Linked DNA regions of Homo sapiens: region 1 is linked to region 2. Evidence: fine-mapped expression QTL. A gene starts in region 2. The other region holds a variant in brackets. All regions are shown on one strand. Distances are from middle to middle.

Evidence for each region. PIP is the estimated chance that this variant, and not a neighbour inherited with it, causes the effect.
Region 1: its variant is fine-mapped to the expression of SMOC2 in esophagus muscle (GTEx, PIP 0.93).

Annotation. Positions count from the first base shown.
Region 1 is chr6:168,607,219-168,616,186 of GRCh38, reverse strand. It overlaps SMOC2 (SPARC related modular calcium binding 2), which reads right to left. Exons shown (of 13, transcript NM_001166412.2): 9 at 7,948-8,030. Among named protein-coding and RNA genes, the nearest start is that of SMOC2, 170 kb to the right of the region's middle. RefSeq lists a cis regulatory region at 3,147 and an enhancer at 3,063-3,232. The variant C/T (reference allele first, on the strand shown) is at 3,634.
Region 2 is chr6:168,436,083-168,445,050 of GRCh38, reverse strand. SMOC2 (SPARC related modular calcium binding 2) reads right to left here and starts at 3,867. Exons shown (of 13, transcript NM_001166412.2): 1 at 3,597-3,867. The coding sequence starts at 3,680.

The sequences.
Region 1 (8,968 bases), 170 kb before region 2:
TTCAGTCTTTGATATGACAGCAGGGATCACAGAAGTAGACATTTTTAGTGGGCAGAATATTGACACCTCGTGTCACCTTTGTGAGGCTCTCAAAGGCCACCAAGCGAGGTCCTGGCCGGCTCCTGTCTGCTTTGTAGAAAAGGTAAACACCGAGGTCCTTACATGTCACATGATACCTGGCAGGAATGTGTTGCTCCTGATCTAACTACCTTTTGGAAAATGTCCTAAGCTCCACTTAGGGCAAGGTAAGGTTCATTTTATGCTCTCTCAGAAAACCATAACTAATCTTCAAAAAATTAGAATAGTGCTAAAATCGTGTCTGAAAAATCCAGGTGTTGCCTCTAAGGTTTCTACATGAGTCAAAGACGATAATTATGCCAGCAATTGCTTGGGGCCCCAAGAAAAAAGATGCTCCTGGCTGTAGATGTGAAGAGACCCTGTGCTGGCTGTAGGTATGAAGAGGCCCCCTGTGCTGGCTGTAGGTGTGAAGAGGCCCTGTGCTGGCTGTAGGTGTGAAGAGGCCCCCTGTGCTGGCTGTAGGTATGAAGAGGCCCTGTGCTGGCTGTAGGTGTGAAGAGGCCCCCTGTGCTGGCTGTAGGTATGAAGAGGCCCTGTGCTGGCTGTAGATGTAAAGAGGCCCTGTGCCGGCTGTAAGTATGAAGATGAAGAGACCCTGTGCTGGCTGTAGGTGTGAAGAGGCCGTGTGCTGGCTGTAGGTGTGAAGAGGCCCTGTGCTGGCTGTAGGTGTGAAGAGGCCCCCTGTGCTGGCTGTAGGTGTGAAGAGGCCCTGTGCTGGCTGTAGGTGTGAAGAGGCCCCCTGTGCTGGCTGTAGGTGTGAAGAGGCCCTGTGCTGGCTGTAGGTGTGAAGAGGCCCCGTGCTGGCTGTAGGTGTGAAGAGGCCCCATGCTGGCTGTAGGTGTGAAAAGGCCCCGTGCTGGCTGTAGGTGTGAAGAGGCCCCGTGCTGGCTGTAGGTATAAAGAGGCCCTGTGCTGGCTGTAGGTGTGAAGAGGCCCTGTGCTGGCTGTAGGTGTGAAGAGGCCCCCTGTGCTGGCTGTAGATGTAAAGAGGCCCCCTGTGCTGGCTGTAGGTGTGAAGAGGCCCTGTGCCGGCTGTAAGTATGAAGAGGCCCTGTGCTGGCTGTAGATGTGAAGAGGCCCTGTGCTGGCTGTAGGTATGAAGAGGCCCTGTGCTGGCTGTAGGTGTGAAGAGGCCCTGTGCTGGCTGTAGGTGTGAAGAGGTACTGTGCTGGCTGTAGGTGTGAAGAGGCCCCCTGTGCTGGCTGTAGGTGTGAAGAGGTCCCCTGTGCTGGCTGTAGGTGTGAAGAGGCCCTGTGCTGGCTGTAGGTGTGAAGAGGCCCTGTGCTGGCTGTAGGTATGAAGAGGCCCTGTGCTGGCTGTAGGTGTGAAGAGGCCCTGTGCTGGCTGTAGGTGTGAAGAGGCCCTGTGCTGGCTGTAGGTGTGAAGAGGCTCCATGTGCTGGCTGTAGGTGTGAAGAGGCCCTGTGCTGGCTGTAGGTGTGAAGAGGCCCTGTGCTGGCTGTAGGTGTGAAGAGGCCCTGTGCTGGCTGTAGGTGTGAAGAGGCCCCCTGTGCTGGCTGTAGGTGTGAAGAGGCCCCCTGTGCTGGCTGTAGGTATGAAGAGGCCCTGTGCTGGCTGTAGGTGTGAAGAGGCCCTGTGCTGGCTGTAGGTGTGAAGAGGCCCTGTGCTGGCTGTAGGTGTGAAGAGGCTCCATGTGCTGGCTGTAGGTGTGAAGAGGCCCTGTGCTGGCTGTAGGTATAAAGAGGCCCTGTGCTGGCTGTAGGTATGAAGAGGCCCTGTGCTGGCTGTAGGTATGAAGAGGTCCTGTGCTGGCTGTAGGTATGAAGAGGCCCTGTGCTGGCTGTAGGTGTGAAGAGGCCCTGTGCTGGCTGTAGGTATAAAGAGGCCCTGTGCTGGCTGTAGGTGTGAAGAGGCTCCATGTGCTGGCTGTAGGTGTGAAGAGGCTCTGTGCTGGCTGTAGGTGTGAAGAGGCCCCCTGTGCTGGCTGTAGGTGTGAAGAGGCCCCCTGTGCTGGCTGTAGGTGTGAAGAGGCTCCATGTGCTGGCTGTAGGTATGAAGAGGCCCTGTGCTGGCTGTAGGTGTGAAGAGGCCCCCTGCTGGCTGTAGGTGTGAAGAGGCCCCCTGTGCTGGCTGTAGGTGTGAAGAGGCCCTGTGCTGGCTGTAGGTGTGAAGAGGCCCCCTGTGCTGGCTGTAGGTGTGAAGAGGCCCTGTGCTGGCTGTAGGTGTGAAGAGGCCCCCTGTGCTGGCTGTAGGTGTGAAGAGGTCCTGTGCTGGCTGTAGGTGTGAAGAGGCCCCCTGTGCTGGCTGTAGGTGTGAAGAGGTCCTGTGCTGGCTCTAGGAGAAGAGGCCCTGTGCTGGCTGTAGGTGTGAAGAGGCCCTGTGCTGGCTGTAGGTGTGAAGAGGCCCCCTGTGCTGGCTGTAGGTGTGAAGAGGCCCTGTGCTGGCTGTAGGTGTGAAGAGGCCCTGTGCTGGCTGTAGGTGTGAAGAGGCTCCATGTGCTGGCTGTAGGTGTGAAGAGGCCCCCTGTGCTGGCTGTAGATGTGAAGAGGCACTGTGCCATGCCCTTTAGGGAGAGGCCTTGACCATTCATGAAGTCTGCTGGGTCCATAGAGCTTCCAGAAACACTTGGGTGAGAGGCTGTTTGACCAAAATAAAGACCATTTCTTAGACTGTGTGCCAGGCGGAAGAGCTCTGGGGATCCAGGAGAGGACCCTGGCTTGGGGTACAGGGCAGTAACAGAGGGGCCATGCCCAGGCTCCCCAAGGGGCTCCTCATGCCGCCCCCTCTGTCCTCACACTGGTGCCACTGCTGAACCACCAACATCAGGACACCCACAGAAAGACAGTGCTGTTTTCACCTGAGCTGGTGGAGGAAGGAATGGCTCACAGGATACGTCAGACTTCCCCTGCACCTTCCTGACCCCCAGGGCCCAGCTCCTGTGCTGCCTTTGGGGTGGCCTGGACCACAGTGCCTGAGAGTGAGATCAGACTGCACGCAGCGCAGATCGTCACAATGACGAAAATGTGAGCGTTCCCTGCCAGTGTAGACTGAAATGAAGCAACGCCCAGAGGAAAGCCAGTCTGCTCATTCGAATACGATTGGTCCTGAGAATGAGAGTCAGCCGGAAAACCGTATCCGAGAGTGAAAGACACAATTGCATGATCAGGAAAGGTGAGAGGAAACCCTGCACTCTAGGCCATGAAATCACTTATTTTGACTTCACTTTAGATCAAAGTCTCCATTGTAAGTTTTCGAGCCAACTCTCCTTGGCCGATGCTCCTGCCCTGAACCTGCCGGCGACTGGGCCTGCTCTGCTCTGGACAGGTGCATCTCCCTGCACCTCTGTCTTTCGCCTGCATCTCCTCTCTGACAAGGTTGTGCCGATGGCCTCTTGCATTGCCGCGCCGAGGGCCTACGAGCCTGAATCACAAATGGAGCCGGTGCCGCAGCTGAGGCAAGCAAGGGACTGTTCTGGCTTTTTCCCCTCTCACTCAGCAGAAGGGGCCCTGAGGACTGATGGAGATCACGAACCCAGTGCTGCTGTTTGAGTAAAGGCTGGGGTCACCCTCTCCCCTGATGGAGATCACGAACCCAG[C/T]GCTGCTGTTTGAGTAAAGGCTGGGGTCACCCTCTCCCCGATGGAGATCATGAACCCAGCACTGCTGTTTGAGTAAAGGCTGCGGTCACCCTCTCCCCGATGGAGATCACGAACCCAGCACTGCTCTTCAGGTAAAGGCTGGGGTCACCCTCTCCCCTGATGGAGATCACGAACCCAGTGCTGCTGTTTGAGTAAAGGTTGGGGTCACCCTCTCCCCTGATGGAGATCACGAACCCAGCGCTGCTGTTTGAGTAAAGGCTGGGGTCACCCTCTCCCCTGATGGAGATCACGAACCCAGCGCTGCTGTTTGAGTAAAGGCTGCAGTCACCCTCTCCCCGATGGAGATCACGAACCCAGCACTGCTCTTCAGGTAAAGGCTGGGGTCACCCTCTCCCCACACTGGAAAGCCCATTCAAGACCAGTGCTGCGGGGCCCTAGATAAGCAAAACCACATGGCTAGTAAGTCAAAGCTTACCAGTATCACTTAGCCAAAAAGTCTTCTAGTAGGAAAAGAAAACTGCCTACATCCTTCGTTCCACCTCGCGGATGCCGGGAACATGGAGGTGCAGTCTCCACCTCCCCAGGGACCCTGTGAGGCACGGGGCAGAGTCCACACCCACACCACACGCTGTGCCCCACCAGGTGGGAACAAGCTGGACAGGTGCATGTGAGTGGCCGGCCGCCTGGGCATCCTGAGGAAGCCGTCCTGAAGGATGTGTGGGAGGCACAGGAGCTAAGAGAGATGCAGCTCAAGCAGAGGGAAGAATTCCAGCAAGGCTCAGACACGGGAGCCACATCAGGGCCTGACATGGGAGCCACAGCCAGGCCCGACACGGGAGCCACGGTGGGTCCCGGACATGGGAACCAGAGCAGGGCCAGACATGGGAGCCACAGCCAGGCCCGACACGGGAGCCACGGTGGGTCCCGGACATGGGAACCAGAGCAGGGCCAGACATGGGAGCCACGGCCAGGCCCGACACGGGAGCCACAGTGGGTCCCGGACATGGGAACCAGAGCAGGGCCAGACATGGGAGCCACGGCCAGGCCCGACACGGGAGCCACGGTGGGTCCCGGACATGAGAACCAGTGCAGGGCCAGACATGGGAGCCACGGCCAGGCCCGACACGGGAGCCACGGTGGGTCCCGGACATGAGAACCAGAGCAGGGCCAGACATGGGAGCCACGGCCAGGCCCGACACGGGAGCCACGGTGGGTCCCGGACATGGGAACCAGAGCAGGGCCAGACATGGGAGCCACAGCCAGGCCCGACACGGGAGCCACGGTGGGTCCCGGACATGGGAACCAGAGCAGGGCCAGACATGGGAGCCACAGCCAGGCCCGACACGGGAGCCACATAGGGCCCAACAGACACACCACGGCCCCGACACAGGAGCCACAGCTCAATGCAAGTGCCTGGTTCTCCAGCCTCACATGAGGACCTGGGAGGATGTCAGGGGGCTGGGGAGGCTGGAGAGACAGAGTAACCCTGTTATTTAAAACACCAACCAGAGTGTGATCAGAGATGCCAGGGCAAAATAAAGTGAGGTGAACCTGTCCAAGAAGAAGGTGTGGTTTAGGAAGGGCTGGTTTAAGAAGATCTGGTTTAGGAAGGTGTGGTTTAAGAAGGTGTGGTTTTGTGCCTCTTTTTAGAATTTCTGCTACACAGGATGTGATAGTCCCAGGAGGAAACCTACACAATGAAAGAAGAACCTTCAAAAGCCAAAACGGTGACCCAGTCGTCACTATGTAGCCCCTTAAGCCAGACCTAGATCTCTTGTGCCATATAATAAAATGATGGCCTCCAAAGACTCAATGATCGTTTGCTGCCAAACACCTGCTAACTGTCCTACATAAGATGTGAATAAGTATTTGGTGACAAATCAACTGCTCACCCCAAACAAGTGAATTTTGTGTGAAAATATTATCAGCTTTACATGGAAAATAGAGGACCTACATTGGCAAAACCTTAGAAAAGCAACTTCAAAAGGAAACGGTACCTTTTAAGAATAAAATACATCAGCCTGCATGGGACCTGAAGGATCTTCCTACTCAAAGGCTGCTGTGTTATTTTGGAAATAGGTTTCTCCTCTCTACCAGGAACAGCCTCTATCCTGCAGCTATTTTAAGACCTACTTGTTTTTTCCTAATAAGGATAATTATCTCCAAATAATCAAAATAATTAAGTGGTCATGAACAGTGCACTCCCAAACATCTATGGCAACAGCACAAGCTGACCTTTGCACAGTTTGCGTCACGTGGCTTTGATGCCTCAGCAATCTGGTTTTCGTCTGAGGTGTGGGCAAGGAAACGCCGTCTTCATTGTGAGCATCTAACCATCCTTCTCCTCCTGTTTTAGCAGAGAGGAGCATGGTTTCTGACGTGCCCATCCTCACAGTGTGGGATGCTGTATCTCCAAATGGCACCTCTGACACTCAGAGAAGACAATGACATCATGTTTCTCAATATCAAGGACCAGTTGTTCTCACTGGACAAATGACTGTGTCATCTTTAAATCAATAGTCTGGGTCTAGAGTGTAACAGATTAGATTCCACCAGGAAAAGGTCTTCCTGCCACGTGCACTCCTGAGAGGCAGCAGAAGCCAGCCTCTGTCACGGTCCCTTTTACCAATGAGAAGCGAAACTGACTTCCATAAATTGCACTCGTATCACCTGTGTGAAGACCACAGTGCAGCTTGGCTTAGAAGTGATGCAACTTTGTGCTATCGAAAAAAAAAATAAGTTAAGAATCTTGGACTCTTCAAGAAGTACACTAGGGGCAAAAGACAGATTGAAGTGCACGTGACAAGGTCAAGACCAACCAAAACCAGGAAACATTTATTGAGGGCTTTCCATGCAGCAAGCATGTGAGAAGCTCATTATGTCTTTTAAGGAAACATCTTGCCCACCAATATTAAAATCGGACTTCAGAGACAAGAGATGACACCAGATAATGGAGGAGGAGAACTCCCTCCTGACAGGGCCATCAGGGGGATGGAATTCAGCCAGCAGCTGAGCACAGCCTGCAGACACGGGGTCAAAGGCAAAACACCCTTCACTAGGCATGCACAGGGACGGGTGTGTTTGCACCATCGTGATCTCTTCCCCCACCCTCACCTGCGAGATCCAGAAAGAAGCTGATTCATTCAACAGAAAGCAAGTTGATTGCTCACACAAGGACCATACTCTCATTAAAAAAAAATTACTAGAACCAACAGATTCCTCAAACCTGCCTCACAAGGAAGACACTGAGGAGGTACACGGCTGGGAAACCATGAAGAACTAAGACAAAGACAGTTCCTAACAAGCCAGCCCAGTGAGCTGCACGGTGTTTACCAAGAGCTGGCAGAATAACTGTGCTGTGTGTCCCCGGAACCACATTCCGCCCTCTGCTTCCCTGTGTCAACCATTCTCGTTACTCATGTTGTGGAATCGCTATGAACACGTAGCAATGAAACATGTATAGACTGTGGACATTCTGCTCTACCCTGTCCTCATTTATAAGCCGAACATCTTTACTTTTTACAATTTAAAACCTTTCTACCAATGACAGTACAAATAGTACAGGAAGCACAAAAGTTTACTCATCCGGAATTCATCCAGTTTCTGTATGAGACAAGATCAAGCACGTACTCTAAACAAAGTACGCTGTAGTGTGATTTTCATGTCTCTGAGATGTTGGTTAAACATACACAATCTGGAGATATTTAGAGAAAAAAAGATCAAAATGAAACAAATGGCAAGTAGCTTTGAAGCTTCTTAATGATATATCAAATTCACCCCATGACGTCTTTTTGTGACTGCATTTTTCAATTATTATAAATTTTAATTCACCTCTGTTTAATTACAATATTTCTTTGTAATTAAACTCAATACATACATTCAACTCATGTTTTCTTAAAACCTAAACTTTAGCTTCATGAACTGTTGATTCAGTGAAAAAGGAATGTCAGAAAGTGACAGTGAAATGTAGGTAGAATGAATAAAGGGTTCTTTGGGCTGTGGGGTTCAGGAGCATCTAGAGAGGTTAGGGTGCTGTGTGCTGATCTGATTTGTGAGGGGCCCTTTCTTTCTCTTCCATGTCTGACCTTCCATACACAGCAGCAGGGAGGAAGCCCCCCAGGTGCTCCCCGTGTGGGCTCCTGGCCCCCTGTCTCCCTGCCTGGACTCAGGGCCCTCTGCAAGGAGGTAGGAGGCCTCAGAGTCAGACAGGCCCCCTGGGAAACAGAGTCAGATAAAGTCTTTTTCATTCCAAATTTGCAAGAAACTGCATGGTGGGGCCTGTGGATTCGGGCCACACTCGCGGGTGCTGCTCACCTTGTAGCTGGCGGCCCTTGTACAGGTCCCGGGCTTTGGCTGGGTGGGCCCTGGCCGTGTTGTCACATTTCGGCTGCTCGTACCTATGGGCGGGGGGAAGGCGGGGGAAGGAGAGAGAAAACAACGGGCTTGAGACCAGCTGTGGTTTGTCTTCCATTTCTGGAGTGTCCTACCCTAGCATACACCGTGACCTGTGGCTCTGATGCTATGACACCCATGACCTCCTCACTCCTTTCTGTCACCTTTGTGGATATTTGGCATAGAAAGCTATTGCTTGCAGTCAGTAGGAAGAAGCACACTGTGACTTCAATCACACAGCAGGGCCGTCTCTCCATCCCGTCTCTGAAATGAATCTCATCTAGCAGCTGCCAAGCACCCACACCTCCCCCTCCTCCCGTTGCAGGGTTGGATGGAGCAGCGCCCACACCTCCCCCTCCTCCCGTTGCAGGGTTGGATGGAGGAAGCACTTGGGTTGTTTCGTCAGAGCAGGAGTGTGTGCACGAGGACAGAGGGTGTGACCACTACCCCCACCCCGCCCAAGGAAAGGATGCAAAGGACTTCAGGATTTAGATTCCTGTAGCACCAAAGGCCAACTCATTTCCAATCCACCTCGTGAAGCTACGAAAGTCTGCCTCAGTGTTAAAAAAAAAAAAACGACTCTCTGGTCCCACTTAGCATCAATGACAAACTGCAGGTTAAGTCCTGAACAGACAGGGCTGACATCCAAGAGGGCAGGTGCCCTGGCTGCTGCGGTTGCAGAGCTCATGGGAGCAAGTGGCTCTGTGGTACTACTGAATTGGCAGTGGGAACCAGGGTGCCTGTCCCTAAGGGTGTCAGATTCAAATCCGGTAAACAGCTCATAAACACTGCCATATGCATGCCATTCAGCAGCCCTTGACCAAGGCCTGCTTTGCCTGGGTTTTATCCTTGTCCTGGGTGTAGGGCAAGGAGGAGACCCCTGCCACGCAGACCACCAGCCTCATCCAGTAGAGGAGGTGGACATTTAAACAGAGTGCGGGCC
Region 2 (8,968 bases):
GTGCGTATGACCTTAGGGGAGCGTTAGGTATTGGCAGTAAGAGAAGTCTGAGAAGGATGGTAATGTGACTTCAACATTCTAAGTGTGAGCAAAATATGATTTAGTCAACATGGGAATGAATACTTTGGCTCTAACCAAAAACTTCTGGGAAAGGGGTCCCAGGCAATATTGTTCTTCTCTCTGCCTTTAAAGAAATCACCTAGGTATGGGCTTATGGATCAGTCCATCAAAATTCATATAATGACAACCATGATAAAGTTGAGTAATTGTGATCACGCCTGTTTGCTCTTTGAAAACAGAATTATGTGTAATAAAAACCATTTATACTAGAGATCATTCCCTCATCTCAGTCATTCACAGAAATAAAAAGGAAAATGGGCACGGTGTGGCATTCAATGTACCTCCTTCTTCAAGGAAGAAATTGACCTGCATCCAAATTAAGAGCGCATTGGACACACTTAAGAATGCCATTGTTGACTGGAGGTGAGAGGGTCTGAGCAATAACCAGGAAGTTGTGCAAAGCCATCAGAAAGTCACAATGAGAGACACAGAGGGCCTCATGGTGCCATTTCTAAAGAATGACTTTGGTGGAAAGAAGAGAGATCATTACCAGACAAAGTGGATTCTCTGAATCTTAAACATAAAGTAGCAGAGGTGAGCACACCAGCAATGCTGGACCCACCAAGAAAGCACACTCACCATAGGTGAGTAAGACAAATGCGTGGTCCTGAGAAGCCAGGTATGGCAAACTGAAAGCCCCAGAGAGGCTGACATATTTCCCTGCTTCTAGATGAGAAGAAATGAATGGAGTAGAAGGAGGCAGAGAGGCAAGCTTTCCTCCTTGGTCTATAGAGTCCCACATGGCTACTCCCACAAAGTCCACAGATACACCCAGAGCCAAGTGGTGTGCTCTGAGAATCTGCGGCAGGTGAAAATACTGCAAAGTTGAATCCACACACACCTTAATGCCACAACGCTATATGCATTGATAATTACGGTATCAATTGATAGCACTCTCTTATACGGACCCACGGCATGGGCACCATCAAAACAATGTTAGCTGGAGAACTCACATATAGTAGGCGCATTAAAAGCCCTACCTTTAATCCTCACCACATGCTTGAAAGAGATTATGTATTCTCATTTTACAGATAAGGGGACTGAAGATTATGAAATTAAGTAACTTGCCTGAAGTCACACATCCAGCAAGACCCTAAGCTGTGGGTCCCACCCACTGCATGGACTGATACTGCCTCTTGATTTATTAAAGTAGGTAGGATGCAAATCGTAGGGAGAGAAGGCCCTTCTTTGAATGAGGGCCTCCGGAGACAAAAGAGATTTCCAAAAACCAGAAGGCAATTTGAAAAGAGATGAGCACACTGAAAAATCCTGCACATCTCACATCTCCCAGCGACCAGTCAGATTTCAGGCCTGCCTCAGTTACTTTGTAACTCAACTACTTCTTGATTTTCTAGACTGGGGGTGGGGTGAGAAGAAGTGTGCCAAAATGTGTTATGGCTTTAATCTTTTCTTCGGGATACTGATTTTATTTGCAAATGTAAATTTCAGGCAAACTGTTCTTGGGGAATGCAGCCAACAGGGCAAAGCCCACGTGGGGTATCAGCTCCTGCACAGAGACCCCACATGCAGCGGGTCTCACCGCAACCCAAGACATCCTTGGGGCAACCTCAAGGGGGCAAAAGGTGAGAGGGTTCAAGTAAATAGTTAGATGAGACAGGGGAGAGAAGACAAGAAAACCTGCCGAGTCTTAAACTGTTCTAATTACTAACTACCTTGATTCTGCTCTTCCAGGGGGGACCAACAGGCCCAACCCCACCCCCCACACACACAGGGCAGCAGGCAGATGGCAGTCTCTACTTTTTGCGCTTTCAGAAAATCTGAAAATCCGTGGCAACTGTAGGTACCTGCTGCTACAGTCCTGGAAGAAAATGCTATGATCTCCTTTGGAGAATTGGCCTTAGTTTCTCTGTCTCCTCTAGTGTGCTTTAAGAGTATGTGGGGGGTCTTTTTGTGAGTGTATACGTGAGTATATTTATGTCTAGATGCATGTACAGATGTGCATATACATGAATGCCTCCAGTGAGTATCCTCTGAGGGCCCCCTCTGGGGAGATAAAGGATCTTCAGGGAAAGCCTGAGTGTGTGAAAACCTCCTTGGAGCCCCAGTTAGCAGTTTCTAATCTACAAGTCATTTGTGAGACACAAGGCAGGGACCCCGGGCTGCTGCAGAAGAATTTGAGGTATGAGCAATGAACTCACAAACCATCCTTCACACTGCTAAAACGCAAAAGAAAGAAGACGAAGAAAAAGAAAAAGAAAAAGAAAAGATGCCCACATGACTGTTTTAAATTTGCTGAAAGGCAGAACCGACCACAGCTTATTTCAACCATCTTTATTTTCAATACAATAAACACCTTTAGGACAAGTCCCCGGCCACTTAAAAAAGACGGCTGTCCACCAGAGGCGTTCTCACTACCTTCGTGTTTTCTCAAACACTTGTTCAAAAACACATTTAAGTGGAATGTTTTCGTTTCTGGCGATTGCATTAATGATGGGTTTGCAAACCCTGCAAGCCCAGGAGGACGGCTGGAGCTGGGGGCTGCAGACACCCGGCCTTGGCCCAGCGGCCGCCGCGGGTTGGCTTGGCCGGCGGGGGCTTGGCTCAGCCCCCTCTACATAGCTCCTCGTTTGACACCGCGTGCGTTGGCCGGGCCAAGGCTGTCGCATAGAAGTTACAGCTCAGAAAGAAAAACACACAGCGGTCAACCGCGGTGACCCTCGCGCTCAGGAGCGCAGCATCCCTGCCACGAGGAAGAACCCAGAGGCCCCGCAGAGCGGGGAGCCGCCGCCTGCCTCCAGTTCTGTCCTGAGAAGGGAAGAAAGCGCTTCTCTAATAACACTCAGGCCCGTGAAGAATCATCTGTAACCTCATCTGCTTCTTCCTCGGCTCACTTACGAGGGTCTCTGGGAGAGTCAGACCCACGAGTGGGGCCCACGACTGGCAGCCCCTTCAGCCGGCGAGAGGCCCGGGATCCGCGCGGCGCACGAGCCCAAAGCGGTCGGGAGAACACGCTCCAGGCCGGGTCCCCGTGGGCGAGGTGGGCGCCCAGTCCCGGCGGGTCTGTCTTGGCCTTGGGACAGTCCGCGGGGCGGCGCCGGCGCTCCCAGACCTGGTTCCCCACAGGCTCAGGCCCAGCAGTGAGTGCGGGACACCCGAGCGCACCCGCAGCTCCCACTTGTCCGGGGTCTGCAGGACCCCAGGATCCTCTCACAGCCGGGTCAGAGCCCCCGAGGCAGGTGGGGTCCCAGCCGGGTGGAACCCGAGGAGCCCGTCGCAGCCGCAGCAGGACCCCGGCGGGCAGGGTCCCCAGAAGCCCATCCCAGCCGGGTCCCAGGCGCGCACGCTGCGTCCTACCTGCTCCAGCCTCGCCGGCAGGCGAAGGCTCCACGGCCCCCGGGGCCACCTGCTCCCCGTGCCCAGGCGCCTGGGCCTGGAGCGGGGCGCGGGGACCCGAACCCGGCCGGCTGCAAGAGGCGGCACCACTTGAGCTCCAGGTCCCGCGGGCCCGGGCTTACCGTGAGCGCCGAGAACTTCTGAGCGGGCACCGGCGGGAGCAGCCCAGCGAGCAGCGGCAGCCAGCAGAGCTGGGGGAGCAGCATGGTGGCGGAGGTGGCGGGAGCGGGAGATCGGCCGCGTCCTGCGCCCTGGCACTGCAGCCGGGAGAGCCCAGTGGGCGAGCGCGGCTGGGCGGGCGCGTGGAGGGGCGGCTCCGCGATGCTCTCCCCACCGCTCCCGGCGGCCCGGCTGGAGCAGCTCCCCTGCAGGCACCCAGAGGTCCTCCGCGTTCTTTGCGTCCGCCCTCGCTCCTGTCAAATACCCCGGAGCTTCCCGGATCCTCCCCTCCCGCCCGCCTCTCTCCCTCCCCCTCTCCTCCCCCAGCCCCACCTCCCAGCGCCCGCTGCCGCGCCCGCTCCGCTCCGGTGCCCGCTGCGGCCCAGAGGCCTCCCTGGCGCGGGTCTGCGGAGCGAGAGGTGGAGCGGGGGCCACCAGGGCTGCGCAGTGGCCTGTCCGGGCTGTCTCTGTGCCTCCTTCCCCGCGCGCACTCTCACACACACACGTGCACACTTACACACACGCACACCCAGGCACACGCACGCACTCATACCCACGCGCGCGCACCCTCGGGGGGCTTCCAAGCACAACCACGGGACGCACCGCGCCCTCCTCACGCCCCAGGGTCCAGGCCCGGTCCGCGCAGGATCAGCCCAGCGGGACTTTTCATCCACAAAGGTTAACGCCAAGCCTTGGCCGGTCCCCAGACTCCGGGGTTCTCCTTGACCTCTGCCCTCTAAGGCCCCCTGGTCCAGCCCAGAACATTGCCTCTCAGAGGTGCTGAAGGATCAGCGGCGCTCCAGCAAAGGCAGCTGGGAACACATGTCCAGGAAAGGCTGCGCCGGGGGCAGCCCGCCTTTGGCATCTTTACACGGGGTTATCCACTGCAGGGATGGGGGAATTTAGGTCCTAAAGATCCGGGGTCTGACCTGGGCTGTAGCCTTGATCCTCTCAAGTCGGGGGAGCATGTGGTTGGGCATCATTCACAGACACATGTGGCTGTTTTTAAACAGCTCTGTCAAAGCATTTCAGGTGTTTGTGCGGGGAGCACAGGGCTTGTGGAGGTTGTAAACTCACCCACGAAGACTACGTTGGAAACCAGGAAATTTTTGCACACCCAGACTCTGGATAATATCCACTGCAGACAACATTGCTGACATAGTTTAGCCTTGGCTTATAACTTTACAGGAAAAAGCCCTAATTCTGTCTCACACAGAAAGCCAGAAGAGTGAAGATTTGTTCAAGAACAATGAATCAATTGACTTGTCAGGGGCATTGGGAAAAGCACAAAACACAGAAAATCCAAATCTGAGGTTTCATCCGATGTCTAGCCCACTGCTTTGGCTATGAACTTTGGGGGAGGGGGCTGTATCAGCAAGTTCTGGGACTGGCTGCTGAGGCAAAGGCAATGCTATTGCAACCTTTCCCACACAATTTTATCAGGAAAGTGATGTCCGTCGGGCCACGGAAAGACGGGAAAGAAATGCACCTTTTCCTGAAGGAGGGCTACTCTCAGAATTCTCCTTAAAATTCCAAAGCCCAGGGAATCTATTAAGCACTTAAACACATTCCTCCTGGTTTAAGGACTTAGAAGGAAATTATAATAAAACTCTTGAGGGACTGCTCCTGGGTCCAGAAAAACAGGTGAGCAGAGCAGCTGCAAATGATTAAGTAAATAGGAATCACTGTTAGGGAACTGCAGTGAAAATTAAAGTAAAAAGAAAATAAACACTACATACCACTAATTCTAAGATTATCCAAAGAATAAAATTTACACTCGAAGCTGACATACTTCCTTTAAGAAGTATTTGCTACTAAAGAACCTGTTTTTCACTTTCCACTTTGTTGAGAGTACTGCTCGTCAGAACTCAAAAGTTTGAAAGCATGTTCATTTATCCACCATCGTCCGCTGCAAGAATGGCAGACAAGAAGCAGACTTAATTATTCCCATTCTACAGATGAGGAACAAAAGTCAAAGGGGCCAAATGTCTTAGCCAGATCTCCTAAGCAACAAAATCATAAACAGAATGCAGATGTTAAAACCTGCAATACTGGCAAATCCATGTCACTTCCTCTGGCAATATGGAGAACAGAAGAAAATCCTTGGCCCTCCGTGCCTTGTATTCAAGAATCCCAACACGTCTTTCATGTAGCAACTCCAGAATCCTCTGGGAACTCTAGGAAGATAAATGAAATGCATTTGTCCAAAACTCTGACAGATGAGGCAGGTTTGGAGCCTTTGAAACCCCTTTCAAATCTGGAGGAGCTCATGTGTCCTGAATGCCAAATTTTAGTTTCTCAAAATTCTAGAAATGGAGTTTGGAGAGATAATCAGGTTCCATTTTTATGGAGAAAAACAATACATTTATTTAAAACACTGGGAAAGAGTTATGTCTGTCTTTTATTTGTAAGTCTCCAAGAAAGTTATTACTGGCAGGAATGCCAGAGAGCTGTCATGTTAGAAAGGATAGAAAAGTAATTCACTCAGTTCAAAGTTAAGACAGGAAGTGATCAGCTCTATACTTTCCAGAGAGTTCCTCTAGGATGCAGGAAGAAGTTCCCCTCTCTTGGAAATGTAGGTTTTTTTGTTTTTTTTTTTAATTAAAAAGTGATGCAGGGCCCATTCTAAAATGTGGCTTATGCATTCAGAATTTAAATGCCTGTCACTGATGAAAGTTACAATAAAGAACAGCAAGAGAAACTAATTACCAAAGACTCCAGCTGTTTTCACATTTCTAAACTAACTTTCCCTCTTAGGCCATTAGCAAAATGCTTTATCATGAGTATTGGCTTCCTTTTTATTTATTTTACTATGCTAAAACTGCAAAAGGATTTTATTTTCATTATAGAAATGATATAATTTAGTTATTATTTCTGGCTAATTCATGTTTAGCCAGAAAACTTTTTGTCAGCTATTTTCCCATCTCAATATGCCAAGCATAAGTTTAGTCAAATATCTCTTTGTTGATGCAGTGACTTCCAGAAATCCCCTCTGCCATCACTCTGAGTATCATCTGGGACTGAACTCAGGTCACTGTTCATACTCTGAGAATCACCCCACATCATCAGTCACCTGCCAGTCACTTATTAATGTTTTCTCCTAGTTTCTACTTAATCATGGGAGCAGGAGTTTTCACCGTTCACCTGGACTTTCTTAGGTAAGTTCTGTGTGATTTTCCTTTTAGACTACCCCCAGGCTGGACCCGAGAATCTGTAGTTCCCCAGGTTTCTGGAGTCTCTGTCCTCTTGTTGGCTTGTTCATTCTGATGACTTGCATCTTCCTTTTAACTTGTTCCCTTCAACCTACGGAAAAATGATGCAGGATCCCCACATCAATCCCAGGTTTTTAGCCCAAGTTCTGCAGCTTCACAAACCTGTGAGCCATATAGAAAGGAAACCACATCGGCAGAGTTGACAAAATCAGAACAGAGCACCGCCGAGGCTCACCGTCACCGCGGCTGCAGGATGAGGCCAGCGTTGACACACCACGTTGAAAAGTGGACAGTGGAGTTGTGTGTTTGATCCTTGGGCCTGACTCAATGGCTTTCTTCCTATTTTGATATATTTAAGTAACAGAGAATTTGGACTTTGTGCTCAACAAAATAATTAAACAAGTTTCTTCTTTTTTTTTTTTTTTTTTGAGATGGAGTCTTGCTCTGTTGCCCAGGCTGGAGTGCAGTGGTGCAATCTCGGCTCACTGCAAGCTCTCCCTCCCGGGTTCACACCATTCTCCTGCCTCAGCCTCCCGAGTAGCTGGGACTACAGGCGCCCACCACCACGCCCAGCTAATTTTTTGTATTTTTAGTAGAGACGGGGTTTCACTGTGTTAGCCAGGATGGTCTCCATCTCCTGACCTCGTGATCCGCCCACCTCGGCCTCCCAAAGTGCTGAGATTACAGGCGTGAGCCACCGCGCCCGGCCTCTTCTTCCTTCTTAAGATGCCTGAGGACAATTTTTATGATAATACTTTTCAGGCACTTTGTGGCAAATTTTTAAAAAATAATTTCAGCTTTTATTTTAGACTCGGGGGCACACGTGCAGGTTTGTGACATGGACATATTGTGTGACTCTGAGGTTTGGGGTATGAAAGACGCAGAGAGTGAGCATAGCACCCAATAAGCAGTTTTATCAGCCCTTGTTCCCTGCCCCACCTTTCTAGCAGGCCCTGGTGTCTACTGTTCCTTCTTTATCTCTGTGTGTACCCAGTGTCTCATTTCTTCTTTATCTCAATGTGTACCCAGTGTCTAGCTCCCGCTTATGAGTGAGAACATCCAGTATTTGCATGTCTGTTCCTGCATTAATTCACTTAGGATCATGGCCTCCAGTTGCATCTATGTTGCTGCAAAGGACATGCTTCCGTTCTTTTGTGGCTACATAGTATTCCGTGGTGTCTATGTACTACATTTTCCTTGTCCAGTCCACTACTGATGGGCACCTAGGTTAATTCCATGTCTTTGCAATTGTGACCGGTGATGCAATTAACATACAAGGGCTTGTGTCTTTTTTGTAGATGGTTTATTTTCCTTTGGATACATACCCAGTAATGGGATTGCTGGATCGAATGGGAGTTCTATTTTTAGTTCTTTGAGAAATCCCCAAACTTCTTCCCACAGTGGCTGAAATAATTTACATTCCCACCTACAGTGTATAAACATTCCATTTTCTCTGCTGCCTCAGCAGGATCTGTTGCTTTTTGACTTTTTAATAATAGCCATTCTGACTGGTGGGAGATGGTATCTCATTGTGGTTTTGATTTGCATTTCTCTGATGATCAATGATGCTGAGCATTTTTTAATATGTTTGTTGGCTTCTCGCATGTCTTCTTTTGAGAAGTGTCTGTTCATGTCCTTTGCCCACTTTTTACTGGGGTTGTTCTTTTGCTTATTGCGTTGTTTCAGTGCCTTCAGACTCTGGATATTAGACCTTTGTCCCATGCATAGTTTGCAAATATTTTCTCCCATTCTATGGGTTGTCTGTCCACTCTGCTGATCGTTTCTTTTGCGTGCAGAAGCTCTTTAGTTTAATTAGGTCCCACTTGCCAATTTTTTTGTTGCAATTGCTTTTGAGGACTTAGTAACACATTCTATGCCAAGACTGATATCCAGAATGGTGTTTCCTACATTTTCTCCTAGGATTTTTATAGTTTGAGGTCTTTCATTTAATATTTAATCCATCTTGAGATAATTTTTGTATATGGTGAAAGGTAGGGGTCGAGTGTTAATCCTCTACACATGGCTAGCCAGCTATTCCATCACCACTTACTGAACAGGGAATCCTTTCTCCACTGCTTATTTTTGTTGACTTTGTTGAAGATCAGATGGTTGAAGGTATGTGG